3 linked regions of the Homo sapiens genome follow. The protein of the gene in region 2 purifies or fractionates together with the protein of the main gene of each other region. This does not show direct contact. Each region holds a gene or a part of one and is shown on either strand. Other genes may lie near its edges.

What was found.
Region 1: the proteins of CYP8B1 (region 2) and HERC3 purify together in Homo sapiens (affinity purification with mass spectrometry; 2 studies listed by BioGRID and IntAct, with this or other methods). This does not show direct contact.
Region 3: the proteins of CYP8B1 (region 2) and TACSTD2 purify together in Homo sapiens (affinity purification with mass spectrometry; 2 studies listed by BioGRID and IntAct, with this or other methods). This does not show direct contact.

What each region holds. Positions count from the first base shown.
Region 1 is NC_000004.12:88,665,448-88,672,559, reverse strand, and holds part of HERC3 (probable E3 ubiquitin-protein ligase HERC3), read right to left. Parts: intron 5,184-7,112; coding exon 5,072-5,183; intron 4,669-5,071; coding exon 4,479-4,668; intron 2,701-4,478; coding exon 2,537-2,700; intron 2,422-2,536; coding exon 2,308-2,421; intron 1-2,307. UniProt on the Homo sapiens protein: E3 ubiquitin-protein ligase which accepts ubiquitin from an E2 ubiquitin-conjugating enzyme in the form of a thioester and then directly transfers the ubiquitin to targeted substrates.
Region 2 is NC_000003.12:42,872,865-42,880,060, forward strand, and holds the start of CYP8B1 (7-alpha-hydroxycholest-4-en-3-one 12-alpha-hydroxylase), read right to left. Parts: upstream 3,016-7,196; 5' UTR 2,953-3,015; coding exon 1,447-2,952; 3' UTR 1-1,446. UniProt on the Homo sapiens protein: A cytochrome P450 monooxygenase involved in primary bile acid biosynthesis. Catalyzes the 12alpha-hydroxylation of 7alpha-hydroxy-4-cholesten-3-one, an intermediate metabolite in cholic acid biosynthesis.
Region 3 is NC_000001.11:58,574,933-58,581,481, forward strand, and holds TACSTD2 (tumor-associated calcium signal transducer 2 precursor), read right to left. Parts: upstream 2,321-6,549; 5' UTR 2,225-2,320; coding exon 1,253-2,224; 3' UTR 501-1,252; downstream 1-500. UniProt on the Homo sapiens protein: May function as a growth factor receptor.

The sequences.
Region 1 (7,112 bases), on a different chromosome or scaffold from region 2:
TCCATCTATTATTTAAAAGTAGTTAAACAAAAATAACATATGAAATAGCTTTAGTATTTTAAATTAAACTTCAAAATATCAAGACATTTAAAATTCAATTTCTAATAGCATTGTACCTCATACAATAAAAAAAATTCCACAAAAATCACAAAAGGCCATATACTAATTTCATGTAATTTTCCATATTTCTTTAATAACTATTATAGTTATTGAAGAGATGAGCATCTGTTATTCAAGATCTGATAAGATATTTATCAAATGTTAAAAGAAAGGAAGTTTAAAATATTGTAAAAGTTACTTAAATATCTCTACTCAGAGACTACTGTCATAATAATCTAGATTTTAACATGAGCAACTTCTTTTTCAGAGTAAAAAAGAATTACAATTTGTTAGACTTATTTTATTCAGCATCAAGTCACAGAAAGGGTAGATTAGAAATCAGAAGAATTGACTTTTACTGCTACTAATGAAATTAGTGGAAAAATTGTTTAACTTCCATTTCCTCATCTAGAAACAAAGCAGTTGGACTAAATAATTCATCAGGCTTATTTTTCTGCTCATAATGTTATTATTCAGTGAATAATTATTCATAAATTGATAAAACAGAAGGGCTTATTTTTTAATAATTCCTAAATTTGAAAGTGAAAACAGAGTTCATTACTAGCCTCCATGTTAAATTTCCCAAGTCAGCCCATTTAGAACACTCTAACTCATTTATATTAAAAAGTATTTTCCTGGCCAGGCACAGTGGCTTACCCCTGTAATCCCAGCACTTTGGGAGGCCGAGGCTGGTGAATCACTTGAGCTCATGAGTTCAAGGCCAGCTTGGGAAACATCACAAAACCCCATCTCTACAAAAAATACAAAAATTAGCCAGGCATGATGGCACGCACCTGTAGTCCCAGCTACTCGGGAGGCTGAGGTGGGAGAATGGCTTGAGCCTGGGAAGCAGAGGTTGCAGTGAGCCAAGATGGTGCCACTGCACTCCAGCCTGGGTGATAGAGCCAGACCTTGTCTCAAAAAAAAAGTATTTTGTTTTCTCAGGGTAATCATAAAATCTTATTTAAAAATAAAACATTGTATGCATTTTTTAAGTCTCTAGAGAAAAAAATACAACATTGTGTCTAGCATTCATCATCTATTATTTGACAAAGAAAACAATCCTTCTTGTTCAGTTAGATCAGCCTATTTAAATGTCTTGCTTTTGGAGACAACTGCTGACTTCCAAAAACCCCACAGGAAAAATATTGCCCTAATACTGGTGATGAACCTGCTACACTGGCAAGGACTCACCTCAAATCTGCTGCACATGGCTTCACAAAATACAATAACCAAATTATCATTCTGTTTTCTGACCTAACTCAAATTTGCACATACTCCACAGATGGGAGATCCTAAAGAGCCTTGCATATATCCCAAGCTGGTGTGCTATCAAAAGGAGCAGTTCCTGCCACGCCAGAGGTGGTAGGCAGGAATCCACAGGCCCCTGAATGGCATATCTAAAATACGGTGAGACAGCACTTGGTCAGGGATGTGTGACACTTTCACACACATAATTCTCAATCAGAAGGGGCCTACGGGGTCCAGGTAGCTGACATATGATGACTGGAGTAGGCTGTCAGAAGATGATAATTAGCAAATGACCCTTCCTCAATGTCAGGGATAAATTACGCTGCAGTGGGAATTGTGGCATATACATAAGCCTCATCTAAAGAGTCACTCTTGAACTCCAGCCACTTGGTGTCATATGGGAAGACAGGTCGTGTTGCCAGATCTTCCAAGTTTTGAGGAAAGCTAAAAATTCATATTTGTATGTGTCTTGTTTTTTTAATTATGGTTTAAAAAAAAACCTAACATAACATGTACCATCTTAAGCATTTTTAAGTGTACACTTTCAGCAGTGTTAAGTATAGTCACACTGGTGTACAATTGGATCTCCAAACTTTCTTATCTTGCAAAACTGAAGCTATACTCATTAAATAGCAACTCTCCATTTTCCCCTGCCTCCAGCCCCTAGCAATCACCACTGTACTTTCTGTTTCTGTGGATTTGACTACTTTAGATACTCTGATTTTTTTAAAGGGGGCAACTGATAAAATGTGTAACATTCTGGGTGACTACTCATTTATGACTCCTTATAACATTGATGATTACTTAAAGCACTTCCAAGTTTCTAGAATGCAAAAGGCCAGCTGGATGAAGAATAGGTGACACACTGACATCAAAGTCAAAGACATATTATACAGCTCACATGTGCTTTTCTTATAAAAAGACTAAAGCTTTAAAATATGCTTTATGAATTCTTACCATCCCTGCTTGATGCAAGAACCACATGAGGTAGTCTTCCTGAATGTCCACGAGATTGGAAATCTCAGGAATGTAAAATGTATCATATTCCACATGCTTCACTTTAAGATTTACCTAATGAAGAACAAAATACAGACAACTGAAACATGGCTTCCCAGAGAACATCTCACTAGGACATTTTACCCTACCATCTAATCACCCCCTCCCCACTAGCACCTCCTATGCTCACCTTATATAACTTCTCCAAGAGTTTGAGAGCTGCTGTGATATAATTGTTAAACAGTACGGGAATTAAGAATGTCTTTCTTCCCCTCAGTAGATAAAGGACTGCACCTTTATAGAGGTTTACCAGCTTCATGAAATATTTCGGGCATACCTGAGACCACCAGTTATCTTTAGAAAGAAAGAAAAGACATATTTCAACATGTAATCTTGGGCAAGTATTTATGTCTTCTGCCTGCCAGTTAAAAATTGCTTTGTCTAGAAGATAAACATTAGTCTAAAATACATTTTCCCAAAACTGACTTTAAAAAGAATCCATTAAAACCTTTTTGGGGAGAACAACAGCTGTAAAAGAATCCCTGGAGCTTTTTTTGTAAAGCCTGGTCTGATTTTTTGCAAAGACTCAATCTGAAGGTTAACTTAAAAGTCCAATTCCAGACTACATGTGGACAAGATACACATATTTTGGGCAGGAGTGATGCCCAATGTATTAATCCAAAAAGCATTCTTATGTCCTAGCGCTTTCAGCCATCACTAAATCCTGAAGCAGAAATGCAAAGGATGACGCACCACATACCCTAGAAGCAGCACCAATATGGCAACCATTCCCTTCCCTTTAAGAGGTATCATTAGTTGAAAAACTACGATTTTTACTTCTCACCAAAAAATGCTTTCTCATAACCAGACAAGAAGATATACCACTGGCTTATACTTCGTTGGAAATAAACTCAGCCATACTGAAATACTTAAAGAATGAAATAGTATGTCTGAGATTTCCTTTAAAATACTCCAACAAAAAATAAAAAGGTGGTGAGGGCGAGGGACAGATGAAATAAAATGGGCAAAATACTGACAACTGCTGAATTTGTGTGGTGACTACCTGTAGCATACTCTCTACTTTGGGGTATTCTTTTAAATATCAATAATTAGAAGTTAAAAATAAAGTGTAAAATTGAACAATTATGTTCTCTTTGTATTTTCCAGCCTGGAAAAATAAAAATGAAAAAACTCTAAAACTTGAAAGTCAGGTAAGATTTCTTCTGATATTGCCACCTCTCTGTTTCACATCAACTAGAACACCTGAGAAAATGTGCCCCCAAAAGGCTTTTGATCTTAAAAAAAATTAAGTACTAACATTTACTAGTGCTTTCATTATTATTTCTGTTTTTATCTCTTCTACAAAGGTGGAGGCAATATAGAAAAGCCAGTATTCCACCTTCAGGAACACAATCTCTTTATTCACGGCGAGACCACACTCAAGTAACATCCCAGTCCATCTGGAACACAGAAGTTACTGAGCTGCAATGACACCTAACAAAATTTACCAGGGGGGAAAAAAGTAAAAAGCCAGGTGATAGACTTCCTGCACTTGAGTAATAAAAACATTTCAGGTGCTACTCCCATGAAAGACACTCTCCAAATCACTGAGGAATGGAAGGTTTTTATCTCAGCAAAGTGTCCGGAGCCTGCAAAAATCAGTGTGGACTCAACGGTCCTAAAAAAGAAAAACAAAACAAACATTTGGTAAGTCCACACTAGGTCATTTTCTTCCTCTCCTGTTTTGGAGACCTCTGTATCACCGAAACTGTTCACTTCACTCCCACCCCCTAAATTAGACATAGGAGAAAGACCAACGTACAGTAATACTGAGGTACTGAGCAAATGTGGTAGAAAAAAATAGTTTCAAGTTAAATAAATTAGGTTTGTGAATACTATAAAATCAAGATTATTCTGGCATGAGTCATTTCAAATAATCTAAATAATGGTTTTATTTTCAACTTGAAAATAGGGTTAGCTAAAAATTAACAGCAAAGAAAAAAAGGTTTTAAGTGTTAAGGATATTAAATGGCAACAAATAGATTCTTGGATCTCAATCCACTGAGAGCCAGGAGTCACACCAACAAAACAAATGACCATAAAACCACTGATATCGAGGTTAGCAAATTCACCTAGTACTTTGCTGGGGTTTGTATCCAGCCGAAGAATGGCCATAGCCAAGGGAATAGTCAATGTTATATAATACTTGGAATCCTGGAGTAGGGGAAACTCAGGTAGTATTAAATAGATTCTCATGGCTTCAACATCTGGTGGTGAGCTTGACAACTGGGGAATCAGACAACTTTCAAAACTGTTCAAAATCTGTATGAGGGAAAAGAGTAATGAGAAATTCAAACATACTTGAGATCTAGTTAACTTTCTCTAAGTTCATAAGCTATTTGATAGACTCTCAACTCTCATTCATTCACTATGCACTGAGAACCTACTATGAGCCTGACACTGGTCTAGGCCCTCAGTACACATCCATGAAAAGAAAAGCCAAAGATCCCTGCCAGTGCAAACTGTATATTCTAGAGGGGCATTGCCTTGGAAAGGTTTAAGCCAAAAGAAAGCAAAAGGTAGGTCTAATTCCCAGAGTAAATACTTTACAAAATTAAGATTTGGAGACTTTCACTTTTTCATCTTACTCTTTTTCTCTTGAAGTTGAATTCATCGATACAAAAATGCATTTTTAAGAATGCACTTTACAAATATAGAAACATACCTGTTCTAGAATCATGGAGTGCTGAGAGTTCATTAACTTCTCAAATAACACCCTAGTTGAGTTCAGGTCAATCCCAGGGATTTTGGGACTCGTTTTAAAATGTTCATCAATTCTAAACAAACAAAATCAAAAAGGTATATAATAAAAGAAAAAGCAAACACTCTGATAGGAATTATAAACAAGTAAAATACTGTGTTCTTAGTAATCAGATTTAAATTTGATCTGGCAGATAAGATCCACAAAAATACTACACTTTGCATAAATCTCAAAATAATAAACCCAAAATACAGAATATTATTCTTTCACAAAGAATAAACCACACTGGAATTCCTTTTACAAGAATTTTCAAATTTTTAAATCTGTTTTCCTTCAAGTCAAAGTACAAGGACTGTCATATCAAGTTAAGGCTATCTTGAAGTTTATAAACAAATAATTATTTCCCTGATTTCATCTTGTGTTTTTTGGTTTTTTTCTGTTTTTGTGGCTCATTGAACTAGATGTAGATGCTGTGGCTTGGTACAAATAACGTCCCCTGTGCAAACTGGTCCACTCATCAACAAATGACAGTAGAACTTCCTTGTTGAAAGCCTTTCTTACCAAAGTATTTAAAATAAAAATGATCTATAGTAAATGCAAAGTTAATGTCTCTCATCGTTAACACAAAGGATACAATTACATTCACCCAAGGACTAATTTCATTGCCACTATTTTTAACTTTCTAGCAACTAAATCATTTTTTTAACCTTAAATAAAATCTTAGCATTTTTGAGACTTAGAGAATATCTCATATATCCTGCTCTTGAACATACCACATTTGTTAATTTACAAAAGAGCTATCTATTTGCAAAGCAGGCTTCTGTTTTTGAGTAATGGACACATTCAGATGATTTTAATACACTCTGACAGCAATGTTATAATTTTTGAAAACATAAGAGTTTCTAACATTTTTTAAAAATCATAATTATATGTATCGGAACCCTATGCTCAAATGAAGATAAATTGCTTGTACTTTGTTTTTTGGGTCTTTCGTTGTTGTTGTTATTGTTTTTAAAATAAATCTGCCCAAAATATAGAAATGAATTCTGGTTTCCCATATGTAATTTTCCATATGCTTTTTGCTATGCTGTTGAGAAAACAAAAACAAAATGTTTTATCTATACGTATTTATTGCTTTGTAAATCTGGTCTTCATTTTGATTGGTTTCCTGAGATGCATCCTATGTACGCTACAGGAGTAGACTTTCTGAAATACACAGATGTCAGTTTGAAAAAAAATAAAAGGCTTTCCCCACAACTCTATACGAAATCTGTGATACTAAGGATGAACAACCTAACAAGTCTGGCCAAGAGCCCTTCCCAAATGTCATGAAAGCTATCCATCTAGAACGGGGTTTCTCAACCTTGGTACTATTGACTTTTGGGACCAGAGGATTCTTTGCTGGGCAGGTGGGAATGAAGGATGTTTAGCAGCATCGCTGGGTTCTACCCACTGGATGCCAATAGCAAGTCCCTCCCCATTGTACCAACCAAAAATGTTACCAGAAATTGCCAAATGTCCTTTGGGGAGCAAAATCACCCTGGTTGAGAACCCCTGTTCTGGAAGGCCAACATCAGCATAATCCAGAATATCTTTCCCTAGAGGAAAAAACTAATTACTAAATATGAAATGAATTGTGTGAGCTCATCCCAGCTGCCTTAATTATAAAAGTAAATGACTTTATAATCTCTAAATGTAACCAAAGAGAGTTTCTGAAGTGACCTCCTGCAACCCAGTTAGGGACTCATTTGTGGGGAGGGGGTGGTGATGGTTGAATTTAGGAGTCAACATGACTAGATTAAGGAATACCCAGATAGCTGGTAAAGTATTATTTCTGGGTATGTCTGGGTCAGTTTTCTGTAAGAGATTGGCATTTGAATTAGTGACTAAGTAAAGAAAATCCATCCTCATTCAGTGTGGGTAGGCACCGCCCAGTCAGCTGAAAGCCCAGAACAAAAAGGCAGAGCAAAGACAAATTATTTCTCTCTTCTGGAACTAGGACATC
Region 2 (7,196 bases):
GGGAAATCAGGAGGAGGAGTGGTTCAGGGAAGAGGCAGGGGTTCAGATGCCAAGTTCTGCATTGGCCAAGCTGAGTCAGAGGTGCTGGGAGACTCCCATGTGGGTCTGGGGATAGAAGAAAGCTCTGAGTTCAGCAATGATCATGGAAACCAAGGGAGGGTTGACAGCACCCTGAGGTGGGGGAGACATGGGCACTGAGGAGGGATCTTGAATGATTCCTACATTAAAGACATCCTGACTGGGCACAGTGGCTCATGCCTGTAATCCCAGAACTTTGGGAGGCCGAGGAGGCCGGCCAAAATGGTGAAACGCCGTCTCTACTAAAAATACAGAAACTAGCCGGGTGTGGTGGTGCGCACCTATAATCCCAGCTACTCAGAAGCCTGAGGCAGGAGAATTACTTGAACCCGGGAGGCAGAGGTTGTAGTGAGCCAAGATCACACCACTGCACTGCAGCCTGGGCAACAGAGTGAGACTCTGTCTCAAAAAAAAAAAAAGGTATCATTTCTCTAGACCTGTGCTATCCAATAGGGCAGCCACCTGCCACACACGGCAATTAAGCACTTGGAATGTGGCTAGTCTGAACTGGGAAGAACTGCAAAAGTACAGTACATACCAGACTTTGAAGACAGGATGAAAAAGGGAAGGTAAAAACTATTACGTTAAAATTTTTAATAGTGATCACGTTGAAATGCCAATATTTTGGATATATTGGATTAAGTAAAGTATATTATAAAAATGAATTGTTTCATTTTACTTTTTAAAAATGTGTTTACCAGGAAACTAAATTAGCTGGGCAAGGTGGTAGGTGCCTGTAATCCCAGCTACTGGGGAGGCTGAGGCAGGAGAATTGCTTAAACCCAGGAGGCAGAGGTTGCAGTGAGCAGAGATCGCACCGCTGCACTGCAGCCTCGGCGACAGAGCAAGACTCTGTCTCAAAACAAACAAACAAAACCAAAAAACCCCACTACTCATGTAGCTTGCTTCATATTTATGTTGGATGACACTGTTCTAGAACCTGAATTCCATAGGATGTGGGATAAGTGTTGCTGAAAAAACTAAAGCAAGCTGGGAGAGTGGAGGCTGATGTTTGCAAGATGCCATGTTACTCGTGTCTGGGGGGAACCAGTCTCTGTACTCAGGACTTCTCAAGGCAGGCATCATCTCCCAAACCAAGTTGCCCACAGATACTCCCCCTTCCTCTGGACTTCCTGTGAGAGGAGGGTTCGGCAGAACCCACTCTGAGAGATGGTATTTTAAAGAGAATGATAAGCCTGTCAGATGACTAGGCGGGGAGAGAGCGAGGACAGGCAGAACAGAGGTAGGGGGTGCCACAGGACCAGAGGGAGGGGTGGCCAGTGGGGTCTTGGGGCTGCAGAGGGGTGAGAACAGGTGAGAGATGCAATAGAACTCCTCTGGCCAGGTTTGCAGCTGGCTTGGCCAAGCTCACTCTGTAGGATGCAGGCGGTAGCGGAAGCGCACATCGTGGCTGGGCTGCATGGTGCCAAAACCCCAGCGCTGCGGGTCAACATGGGGTAGTGGTGTGTCAGGGTCCACCAACTCTAAGTCAAAGTGTGTGACCATAAGCAGGATAAAGAGCTTCACCTCACTGAGTGCAAAGAACCTCCCAGGGCAGATGGAAACGCCCGAACCCCAGGGCATGGTGTAGTGGTGGATCTTCTTGCCTGTCTTGAAGAAGTCCACTTTCCGGCTGCCATTAGGGTTGAGGAAGCGATCGTACTTGAAGACGGTGGGCTCAGGGTGGATGTCAGGGTCCATGTGCACTGAGAGGTAGGGAAAGAGGGCCAGGATGTCTCCATGGCGGAACAGATACTCCTGCCCACTGGACATCTTCAGGGTATAGTCTTCATGAACCAACCTGAGGAGGGTGGGTGCAGCCCTCAGCCGCAGCGTCTCCTCCACCACGCTGTCTAGAACTGGGGTGTGTTGCAGGGCACCGAGTTTGAAGGCAAAGGACTGCTTGGTCTCCAGCCTGGCCTCACCCAGGACCTGGGTAGCTTCCTCCCTCACAGCCCGAATAGCTTCTGGGTGCTTCAGGAGGTACAAGAGGGCCCAGAAAGAGGTAGGCCCCGTGTTCCCCTGGGAGGCCCAGAGCATCATGAAGTTGAACTTGTCCTGCATAGCTGAGGGTACCCCCTGCTCCCTCAGAAACTGAAGCATGTTGCCCAGCCAGTTGCTGATGCCCTCCTTCTCCTGGCTGTGGCTCACGGAGAGCATCTTGTGAAAGAGACGCTGGAGTCGGCCCACTTCTAGCCACTCCCGGGGCCACAGCAGGGAGTAGACAAACCTTGGGAAAAGAAGGTCAAACTTGCGGAACTCCATGAATAACTCTCCTGCCTGTAGCAGGTCCTGCTCCTTGTCCTTCGTGTAGCCGAACAAGCTCAGGTAGCCAGCTGTGAACAAGATGTAATAGCAGAAGCGAAAGAGGCTGTCCTCATGCCAGCAACTGGCATCCAGACTCCAGCCTTTGGACGTCAGCATTACAAAGGACAGGCTGTCCAGCATGGTCTCATTAAGATCCTTCAAGCCATCCCCCCTCAGATGCTTGGTGCTGGCTGAGTGTATCATCTCATGGTCCCCTTGCACTGAACGGTATCCAAATACCTTCAGCACCAGTTTTTTTGCATATTGCCCAAAGTCTAGTTTTCTCTGTGTGTCCTTGAGGATGGAGCCAAAGGAGAGGGGGTCCATGACGAAGGTGAAGTACTGGCCCCCTAGCTGCACTGTGAACACATCCCCATGCTTGGTCCTCATGCGCTTCAGAAATTCAAACATATTCTTCCGGAAAGCCATGGCATGGCCAAGCCAGGGCACGGTACCCTTGTCCAGAGGGGGCTCCCATGGCCTGCGTTGTCGGAGCATCCCTGGCAGGCACAGGTATCCAGCAATGACCACCAGCAGAGCTCCCAGCACTGGACCCCAGAGAACCATGGCTATGCTCCTGCGGATTAAGCTCTCGACACGCACACTGTTCCCTGGGTGCCAGAGAGCTTTGGGAGGCCTTGGAAAGTCCAGGATGTAAAGGTCTGAGCACCTGGACCTTGCCCTGTGGCCGCAAGTTATGGCAAATAACACTAGTGAGACAGTACTTGGAAGCAGCAAAATGTTCCCCTGGACTTAACACTTGGCTGACTGGTCACGTAGGGGAGGAGGAGGTAACCAGGAGAAAGCTCAGAGAGAAGCTTCCAGCTATGGTCACAGCTGCTCACCAGCTTCATGCTTTGCTCTGACCTTTTCAGACAGCTCTTGCACCTTCTCTCTAAGCCTGCCTTGAGCCCACTCCCACCCCCATAGCTGACAGACTATTTATACCCCCATTTACTCATGCTTTTATTTATTTGCCAGTTCAGTTGGTAGAAATGAATCAAGCACTTACAAAATCTCACTTCCACTCTTTCCTCATCTTTAGAAGACTCAACAAATGCCTCCATTCCTACTTGGCCCCCTTGGTCAAGTAAGTTAACCTCACTGTGGCTCCACTCCCTCATCTGTGAAGTAGGGATAATTACAGTGCCTTGTAGGTGCTGTTGTGAGGCAAAAAGAGATAACACCTGAAAAGCACTTAGAATAGTGCCTGGCTCATGCTAGTGCTCCATATATGTTAGTTAGTATCCTAAAGCCTTTTCTCTTACCTTTGCCTGCTCCCCTGGACCTCACAGCAGCCCGTGCTTATCTCCTCATTCTTTCCCTAGTCTGTCTTCCTCTCTGGTCTCAAAGATGCTTGCCAAGGGGGCATGACCTTGTTGAAGTCATGTCTGCTCCTACCTCCATGTGCACAGAGTACACAGTCAAAGGCAAGTGAAGAATGACTGTATGCCCTTCCACAACAGCTCTGACCCCTAACCCAAAAAAAGAGGCATTGATGCTGGGGCTTTAGATGCTGAGAAGGCTGAGATGGTGGAGGGGGTGTTGACTCCATCTTGGGGTATGAGTGTGAATGAACTCATCTGAGGAGGCCACAGAGCCTCCCAGATGATGACTCTTCAAGCAGAGGCTGAGCCCTCAGTCTCTGAGCCTCTCACCCGGAGCCCTCTCACCTGCCCAACTGCTTGCCTATACACTTCTCTGACAAGAAGGCAGAATCCTGGAATTGTAAAATGTCAGAGACAATAGAGACCTCACTCAATCACTTCATACTTCATTTCACAATGAGGATCTAGGTGCAGAACGCAGTGGGGACCCTCTTTGACAGCTGCCCTGGCTTGGGGCCTTGAGATAAGCTAATCATTGACTAAGGGCCTTCTGAGACATGTCAGCCCAGGTCCCTGCCAGCAGCTCAAGAGGGAGAAAACTGTACCATTGACGCCAAGGCATTAGTCAAGCAGCCTGGCCCATTGTTGCTATAGGTGAGGTTCAAACTCAATTCAATCAGTTCTGATAACCTCCAAATTACTTTTTAACTTCCTAACGACCTGAGAACAGGGACTTCGGCTCTTCAGACAAAAGAGGGTATGGAACTTCCATATCCCCTCTGGAGTGAGCTTCCTTTGCCTATGAGCTTCCCCTTGGCAGGGAGTTGGAACTGTCCACACTCTGCTTCCCAGAATCCCTCTTTAATTGTTCAGGACCACCACAGTACTTGGCATCATCAACTCTCCTCAACCTTAGAATTCGGTCTGAAACTGGGCCAAATCCAATGAACTGAACCGTGTCCCCTAGTTTTTAATGGATGAACCATTATTTCACATTCATTCTTACCTCATTCATTAACCCACACTCATCTATTCATTCCCTCCTTCCTTGGAGAAGCCCCATCTATCCATTCACTAGATATTTATTGGGCACTTACTGGCAGAAATGTTGCTACGATCTGGGATTATAATCATGAATGAGATAGACACAGTCCCTGCTCTCTTGCAGTTTATGGTCTAATGGAGGGAGAAAGATATTAAATCACTGCCCAAAGTAATTATACACATATTTCTCATTTAATGTGCTTTGCTTTATTGCACTTCACAGATACTATGTTTTTTACAAATTGAAGGTTTGTGGCAACCCTGCATTGAGGAAAACTATTGGCACCATTTTTCCAACAGTGTGTGCTAACTTTGTGTCTCTGTGTCACATTTTGTAATTCTCACAATATTTCAAATTTTTTCATTATTATCATTACAGCTGTTATGGCGATCTGTGATATGTTAGTACTGTAATTGTTTTGGGGCACCATGAACTGGGCCCATATATGATGCAAACTTAATTGGTAAATGTTGTGTGTATTCTGACTGTTCCACTGACCAGCTGTTCTCCCCTCTTTCTATCTCTCCTTGGGCTTTCCTGTTTCCCAAGACACAGCTATTTTGAAATTAGGCCAATTAATAACCCTACAATGGCATCTAAGTGTTCAAGTGTAAGGAAGAGCTGCGCTTTAAATCACTTTAAATTTCACTTTAAATCACAAGCCAGAAATGATTAAGCTTAGTGAGGAAGGCCAAGATAGGCTGCAATCTAGGTTTGTTGCACTACACAGTTATCCAAGTTGTAAATGCAAAAGAAAAAATTTCTTGAAGGAAATTAGAAGTGCTACTCTAGTGAATACATGAATAATAAGAAAAACAGCTTTATTGCTGATATGAAGAAAGTTTTAGTGGCCTGCATAGATCAAACCAGCTACAACATTCCCTTAGCCAAAGCCTAATCCAGAGCAATGTTTTAACTCTCTTCAATTCTATGAAGGCTGAAAGTGATGAGGAAGCAGTTGGAGAAAAGTTTGAAGGTAGCATAGGTTGGTTCATTAGGTTTAAGGAAAGAAGCCATCTCTATAACATAGAAGTGCAACGTGAAGCAGCAAGTGTTGATGAAGAAGTTGCAGCAAGTTATCTAAAAGATGTAGCTAAGATAATTGATGAAGATGGCTACACTAAGCAACAGATTTTTAATGTAGATGAAACGGCCTTATATTGGAAGAAGAGACCATCTAAGGACTTTCCTAGAGCAAAGTCAATGCCCTGCTTCAAAGCCTCTAAGGGTAGGATGACTCTCTTTTTAGGAGCTAAGGTAGCTGGTGACTTTCAGTTGAAGCCAAAGCTCACGACCATTCTGAAAATCCTAGGGCCCTTCAGAATTATGCTAAATCTACTCTGCCTGTACTCTATAAGTAGCAAGGCTAGGTGTGGTGGCTCGCGCCTGCAATCCCAGCAATTTTGAAGGCTAAGGCAAGTGGATTGCTTGAGCCCAGAGCTTGGAGCCCAGCCTGGGTAACATGGTGAAACCCTGTCTCTACAAAAATTAGCCAGGTATGGTGGTGCATGCCTGTGGTCCCAGCTACTTGGGAGGCTGAGGTGGGAGGATCACCTGAGCCTGGGAGGTTGAGGCTGCAGTGAGCCAAGATCATGTCACTGTACTTCAGCCTGGACGACAGAGTGAGACCCTGTCTCAAAACAAACAAAACAAAGCCTGGATGGCAGCTCATCTGTTTGCAGCATGGTTTACTTAGGCCCACTGCTGAGACTTACTGCTCACAAAAAAGATTCTTTTCAATGTATTACTACTCATTAACAATGCACCTGAGATCTCTGAGGAAGATGTTCGAAGAGATGAATGTTGTTTTCATGCCTGCTAACACAACATCCATTCTGCAACCCATGGATCAAGGAGTAATTTCAACTTTTCAGTCTTAGTATTCAGAAATACATTTCGTAAGGCTATAGCTGCTGTAGATGGCGATTCCTCTAATGGATCTGGGCAAAGTAAATTGAAAACCTTATGGAAAGAACTCACCATTTTAGAGCCACTAAGAACAATTGTGATTCATGGGAGGAGGTTAACATATCAACATGAACAAGAGTTTGAAAGAAGTTGATTCCAACCCTCATGAATGACTTTGAGGGGTTCAAGGCTTCAGTGGAGGAAGTCGCTGCAGATGGGTGGAAATAGAGAATTAGAATTAGAAGTAGTGCCAGAGGATGTGACTGAATTGCTGCAATCGCCTGATTGAACTTGAATGGATGAGGAGTAACTTCTTACGGATGAGCTAAGAAAGTGGTTTCTTGAGATGGAAACTAATCCTGGCGAGGATGCTGGGAACACTGTTGAAATGACAATAAAGAATTTAGAATATTACATAAAGTTAGTAAAGCAGCAGTAGAGTTTGAGAGCATTGACTCCAATTTTGAAAAAAAGTTCTATTGTGGGTAAAATGCTATCAAACAGCATTCCATGCTACAGAGAAATCTTTC
Region 3 (6,549 bases), on a different chromosome or scaffold from region 2:
GTGTAGGGCCCACTGCAGACTGGCTCTAATTATGTGGGAAAGTCGTTTAATCTTAGAGCCACAACGCTTTGAGATTAAGTGATTTGCTCAAAGGCTAAATGGAAATAGTACCACTTATTTCAAAGTAGGGCTGGGATTCAAAGGAGGTACAGCTCTTGAACTAGAGTTTTCTGTCTCCATTGGTGATAAGCCTTGTTTAGAGATGACCAAAGACTGGCACTCTTTTTCATAAAAGCAGCTAGTTTTAGCTTCCTCCCTCAAGCTCACCCTCCTGCAGTTTGAAGGAAGTTTCCAAATAATCTTATTTAGAAAGAATAGCATTTACACTGGCCAGTTAGGATATCTTAGGACACACCAGAGTAGCAACATGAAACACCCACTTCTGGGGGAAAAAAAAGTGTTATAATTTGAAATAAAAAAAAAATACAAGTCTTGGGAAATTAGAGACCAATGTGATAGAAATCTGGAGGGACTTTTCACAAATGCCGACTTCTGGTTTGTGCCTTTCCCATATTTTATTAAATTCGTGTTTTATTTTAAAAAATTACAGCAACATTATCAAAGACAACATATGTACAAACATTTTACAAAAAAGAACATTACCAATATCAGTGGCAGTAAGGGCAAGCTGAAGAATAAATAGACTGAGTTTCCGGGCAATGTCTGTCCTCAAAGACATCCAAACTGCGTTCAGGCAGCTGAAACAGGCTTCTTTCCCAGTGACAAGCATATGTGGTCAGTAATACAAACGATGGTAAATGAGGCTACTACATAGGCCCAGTTAACAAACTCCTCTTCTCCTCGGGTAGGCCATGATACAAGTGGAACTCATCAAATAATTTAAACCCAAGGCGATAACAACGCTATTTCCCATCTAAACTCATTTAAGCCTTCACAATGTCGCAATGGATTCAGTTACTTGCAAACGATCCCGGGTTGTCATACAGATACTTGTTTTTTACACATAACGCTATGCCATCCCTTCCTTCACTGCCCCAGTCAGGTTTCCTGTTGTTGGACCGAAAGGGGATACATTTTAGAAATGCTTCCTTCAAGACAGAAGTGAGAAAGAAAGGAGACCCTGAGGCCAGGATCTATTAAACCTGGTGTGTGCGCAAAAGGGAGGGGGAAGGCAGGAATTTGAAAGGATAAACGTCTCCTTTGCGCCGAGGAATCAGGAAGCGTGACTCACTTGGGTCTGGGACGATACCGAAATCCGGTACCCCACCCCATCCCCTGCCCCGCCGGGTACCTACAAGCTCGGTTCCTTTCTCAACTCCCCCAGTTCCTTGATCTCCACCTTCTTGTACTTCCCCGACTTTCTCCGGTTGGTGATCACCAGGACGGCCATGCCGGCGACGAGGGCCACCACGACCACCACGATGACGGCGATGAGGCCGGCGGTGAGGCGCTTCATGGAGAACTTCGGGGGAATCTCGTCCAGGTAATAGATGAGCGTGCGCTCCACCTGCAGGGGTTCTCCGCGCACGCGCAAGTCCAGGCCGCCGCGGCCCTGGAATAGAGACTCGCCCTTGATGTCCCTCTCGAAGTAGTAGGCGGCATCGCCGATATCCACGTCACCGGCGGCCTTCTGAGACGTGTTCTGCCGCAGCTCGATCTGGATGGTGGGCTGCTCGTAGTGCACGGCCGCCACGAACTTGGGGTGCAGCCGATAGCGCTCGCGGAAGAGCCGCCTCAGCTCGGCGTCCAGGTCTGAGTGGTTGAAGGCGCCGGCGGTGGGGCGGTGGCGCAGGTCAATGAGGATGTGGTGGGTGCGCACCAGCTCATCGCAGCGTAGGCTCAGGTCGCCCTTGTCCGTGCGGCGCACGCCCACCGAGTTCACGCACCAGCACACCGACGTCTGGTTGCACTGGCGCGCCTTGAAGCGGCCCTCGGGGTCGCAGTCGGGGTCGTAGAGGCCATCGTTGTCCACGAGCGCGTGCTCACTCGGCCGCACCAGCGTGCGGGCGTTCTTGGGGGCGCTCATGCGCGCCTTGAGCAGCAGACACTTGGAGGTCAGCGTGGAGCAGTCGACCGCCATGCCCGAGCCCAGCGCGCGGCACTGGCAGCGGCCGCCGGGGCCGTCGGGGCTGCACACGGTCATCTTGTTGGTGGGACACGTGCAGTTGTCCTGCGCGGCCGTGTGGCCGGTCACCGCCGCCAGCACCAGCAGCAGCAGCGGCAGCCGCAGCGGTGGCGGCGCGAGGCCGGGGCCCCGAGCCATGGTGGGGCGGAGGAACGCGGACCGGACGCGGGCGGATGAGGCGCGGGGACTCGTCGGGGCTCGGGCTCCGGCGTCTGGGATGGTCTGCAGGCGTCTGCCGCCCGGCCGCTCCCTCCGGCTCTTATACTCTACCCGACCTGCCCGGCTGGTTCCACCACCGACCGTCCCCACTGGTATTTGGGTGACACATCCCGCCCCCCTCCCCGTCCCACGGAAGGCCAAGCCGGCCCTGCGCCGCCCGCGATAGGATCAGAACAGGGAAGCTGCTCCCGCCTCCTCCGGACCGAAAGCCGGGAAGGGGAGAACCGATACTCACCTGTAGGCTTCTGGGGACCCGCCCTCGGCGCGGCCTCCTGCTACAGACCTGGCGCGTCTGGGCCGCTCTCCCGGCAGAAAGTCTAAAGAGTTTCATTGCAAAGTGTGGCTCGCGACTGTCGCGCTCTCCTCTATACGCGACTCCCTTTTCGTTCTTTCCCAGCCCCAGCCCTCCCTTAATTTCTCTCACTCCCTCTCTTCTTTGTCCAGTTCTCACAGTAGCACACGTTTATATAGTTTACAGTTCACAAACATTATCTCATCCTAACACCAGTCCTGACAGGTAGGGACTATCAGACCCGTTTTATAGGTGGTACTGATGAGGCTTAAAGACCTGAAGTCACACTGCTATCAACTTCCTCATATTTCTGAGAGGGGTCTTTGGCACCCTGCCTAGGAGTGATGAGACCTTAAATAAAGTGTTTGTGGACACGAAGTGACACAGAATCTGAAGGGAAGTTAGGGAAGCAGTTCTGTTACTCACCATATCAAGGGTAAAACACAGGTATCCTGGTGTCCAGAGGGTTAAAAGTTCTGTTAAACACTAATTTTCTGTACCTCACACAAGCGCACACACACAGGCACACACGCACATAATATTTATTTGTGCACTGGCTATAAAGAGACAAACAGGAACAAATTCTTAAAGAGCCAGCAAGACTGTAAAGAGTTTTTTGTACAATTTGATTCTAACACAGCAAATCGTTGCTTTTCTTTTCCTGTATCCCACGTAAGTAGCTGAACCATGTAAATAATGAAAGAATGGAGCCTGTGAGAAATTGCTTGTCTGCCACTGTGTGGCTAGTTTCATGGCATACAGGGGTTGCAATCTCTTTTTGAGTCATTGAGAAAGTCTAGAGTTTCAAAGCTGTGGTAAAATTAACAATAATTAGCAAGCTATAATTATTCCCAGGTCCTCCATCAAAGCACATTTTATATGTTCAGCATTTAATGTGCACCACCAGTCGTGCAAGGGTGTTGTTTAGCAGATGAAAGCCAGCTGGGCCTCTGTCCCATTAATTTTCACGCAATTCCTGAGGCAGGAAGATTGAAATATATTCTGCCTTGACAGACAGAGGAAGCAGAGACATGTGAGGGACAATTTCTTTTTTCTTTTTTTTTTTTGAGACGGAGTTTTGCCCTTGTTGCCCAGGCTGGAGTGCAATGGCGTGATCTCGGCTCACCACAACCTCCGCCGCCCAGGTTCAAGCAAGTCTCCCGCGTCAGCCTCCCGAGTAGCTGGGATTACAGGCATGAGCCATCAAGCCTGGCTAATTTTTTTTTGTATTTTTAGTAGAGACAGGGTTTCTCCATGTTGGTCAGGCTGGTCTCAAACTCCTGACCTCAGGTGATCCGCCCACCTCAGCCTCCCAAAGTGCTGGGATTACAGGCATGAGCCACCACGCCCGGCGAATTTTTTTTTTTTTTTTTTTTTTTTTTTTTTTTTTTGAGACGGAGTCTCGCTCTGTCACCCAGGCTGGAGTGCAGTGGCATGATCTCAACTCACTGCAAGCTCCACCTCCTGGGTTCATGCCATTCTCCTGCTTCAGCCTCCTGAGTAGCTGGGACTACAAGCGCCTGCCACCACGCCCGGCTAATTTTTTTGGTATTTTTAGTAGAGACGGGGTTTCACCGTGTTAGCCAGGGTGGTCTCGATCTCCTGACCTCGTGATCCGCGTGAGGGACAATTTCTTATCCACAAACATGAGGAATTGTGGGATAGTCCTCTGCTGTCTATCCCCACTGTCTCTGTTCAGGTCTTCCTTGGACAGATATCTGAGTCAGGTTCTAGTTTCTTTTCCCCTCTCCGACCTCGGTCCACCCTGCATCCAAGAAGACTTTCTAAATCAGAAGTCTGTGCCCACCTCCTCTCTGTTAAGTAGAGTGAGGGGGGTGCTCTCGGCTCTCCAGATAAAATTCATGCTTCTTATATTAGCCCTTAAGATCATTCCTATATGATGTTATAGGCAAGCTACGTCTCTGTGCCTTAGTTTTGTCATCTGTAAAATGGGGATAATAAAAGTACCTACCTTACAAGGTAGGTTTTATAGTTAATGCAGATAAACTGCTTTGAAGAGTATCTGTTCTAACAGTATCTACACATAGTAAGCAACGGATAGATGTTAGCTGCTGTCATTTGTCATCATCGTTGTCGTCGTCGTCGTCATCATCATCATCATCATCATCGTGCTCCTGCCAACCTCTCCGGCAGTCCATGTTTTCAAGTCTTTGCAAAGTCACCTACCTGGAGTCTCCCTTTCTTTATTTAGTGCATAATTCTGTTTTTCTACTCAGCTCTTGAGTCACCTCCAAGATGCCTTCCCTAATAAGGCCCTCCCTGTTACACTCAGGGATATGCCTCTCTATTCGTTCCTAATCTCAGACATACTAGGATGGCAACATTAACTTTTCTGGGCTTTTGTCCTCCCATCTGTCAAATGGGCAAAATACAGCCTGTTTCGTAGATTATGCTGAGACTCAAATACAAAGAGATGAGATGGTAGATGCCAAAGCTTTGTAAACTCTAAGACTCTGTAAAAATATTAGATTTCACTTTTATTTCTAAAATATATATACCCTCTTCTTGCTTTTCCAGGTATTAACTAGGTAGCCACAATGTTCTATAACTAGCAGAGTTCTCTATTTTCCATTCCATCAGGTCCCAGGCTGGCAAGAGGAAAGCTGATGAGAGAGGGTTCTCAGGGCTGAGGAATTTGTGTGATGGTGTCATTGACTACCAAGCTAGAACAGCCCCACATGGGTGGTACTGGGGCTAGTGCTCTGAGGCATCCAAGCCTTTGCTTCTTCCAATTATGTTAGGTACTGAGAGGACAGGAATAGAAGGGGCCCAGCCTCAATATCTTCTGGGGAAGTTAGAGTAAGGCAAAGATGACCTCCTAATCCCCTCCCCCCACAGACTCCACTTGCTTAAATTCTCTGGTTCTGCCAGGCTTTCCCCAACACACACAAAGACCACAATGAGTTTATTATGTAAACACAGTCTCAGCTGTGATTCTCCCTTTTCCCTTCGTCCTTTTTCTGCCAAGTTCTGCAAAATAGCATGTATTAGCTTTATCTCTTTTTATTTATTTATTTATTTATTTTTGAGACAGAGTTTTGCTCTTGTCACCCAGGCTGGAGTGCAGTAGCATGACCTCGGCTCACTGAAACCTCCGCCTCCTGGGTTCAAGTGATTCTCCTGCCTCAGCCTCCCAAGTAGCTGGGATTACAGGTGCTCAACACCATGCTCAGCTAATTTTTGTATTTTTAGTATAGACGGGGTTTCACCATGTTGGCCAGGGTGGTCTCAAACTCCTGACCTCAGGTGATCCTCCCGCCTTGGCCTCCCAAACTGCTGGGATTACAGGCGTAATCCCACCACACCCAGCCTGTATTTTTTAATTTTAATTTAAAAAATATTTAACACAAGCATTTCAGGCTTGTCATGTGTTTATGAGGGGCGGGAAGCACATATAAGCACTGTATGTAGCCCCAGCACCAGAATATTAGGCACTAAGTAATGTTTATTGGATTAACACTGAGTTGTGCCCAGAATGTTTCAATATCAATATATTCTCCTAGGAGTGTTCATGTGGACCATTTCAGTACTTCTTTCCTTGTCTAAGCCTCACCACCTGCCCCAACCATGAATCTCTGTCCCTACCCTAACCCACCCTCCAAACACCCAATTTCAAGGAAGACTGGGTAACGATGCCCTTATTGTCATTTTTGTCCAATCCTTAACTTTTGTCAGCCTTGTGCCTGCAAGGATGAAGGATATGATCTGAGGACACCAAGAGCAGCCAAAGATTCTATAAGCAAGTGTATAATGTAGTTGAAAGAAAATGGACCTTGGATCCAGTGAGACTTAGGCTCAAGTTTTGGCTTCACACCACTCACTGCTGTGTGTTTCTCAGCAAGTTGTTTCAGCACTCTGCGCCTCAGCTTCCTTAACTGTAAAATGGGGGTAACAGGGCCTACACTGCATCAATGCCTGTGAAAACAATGAT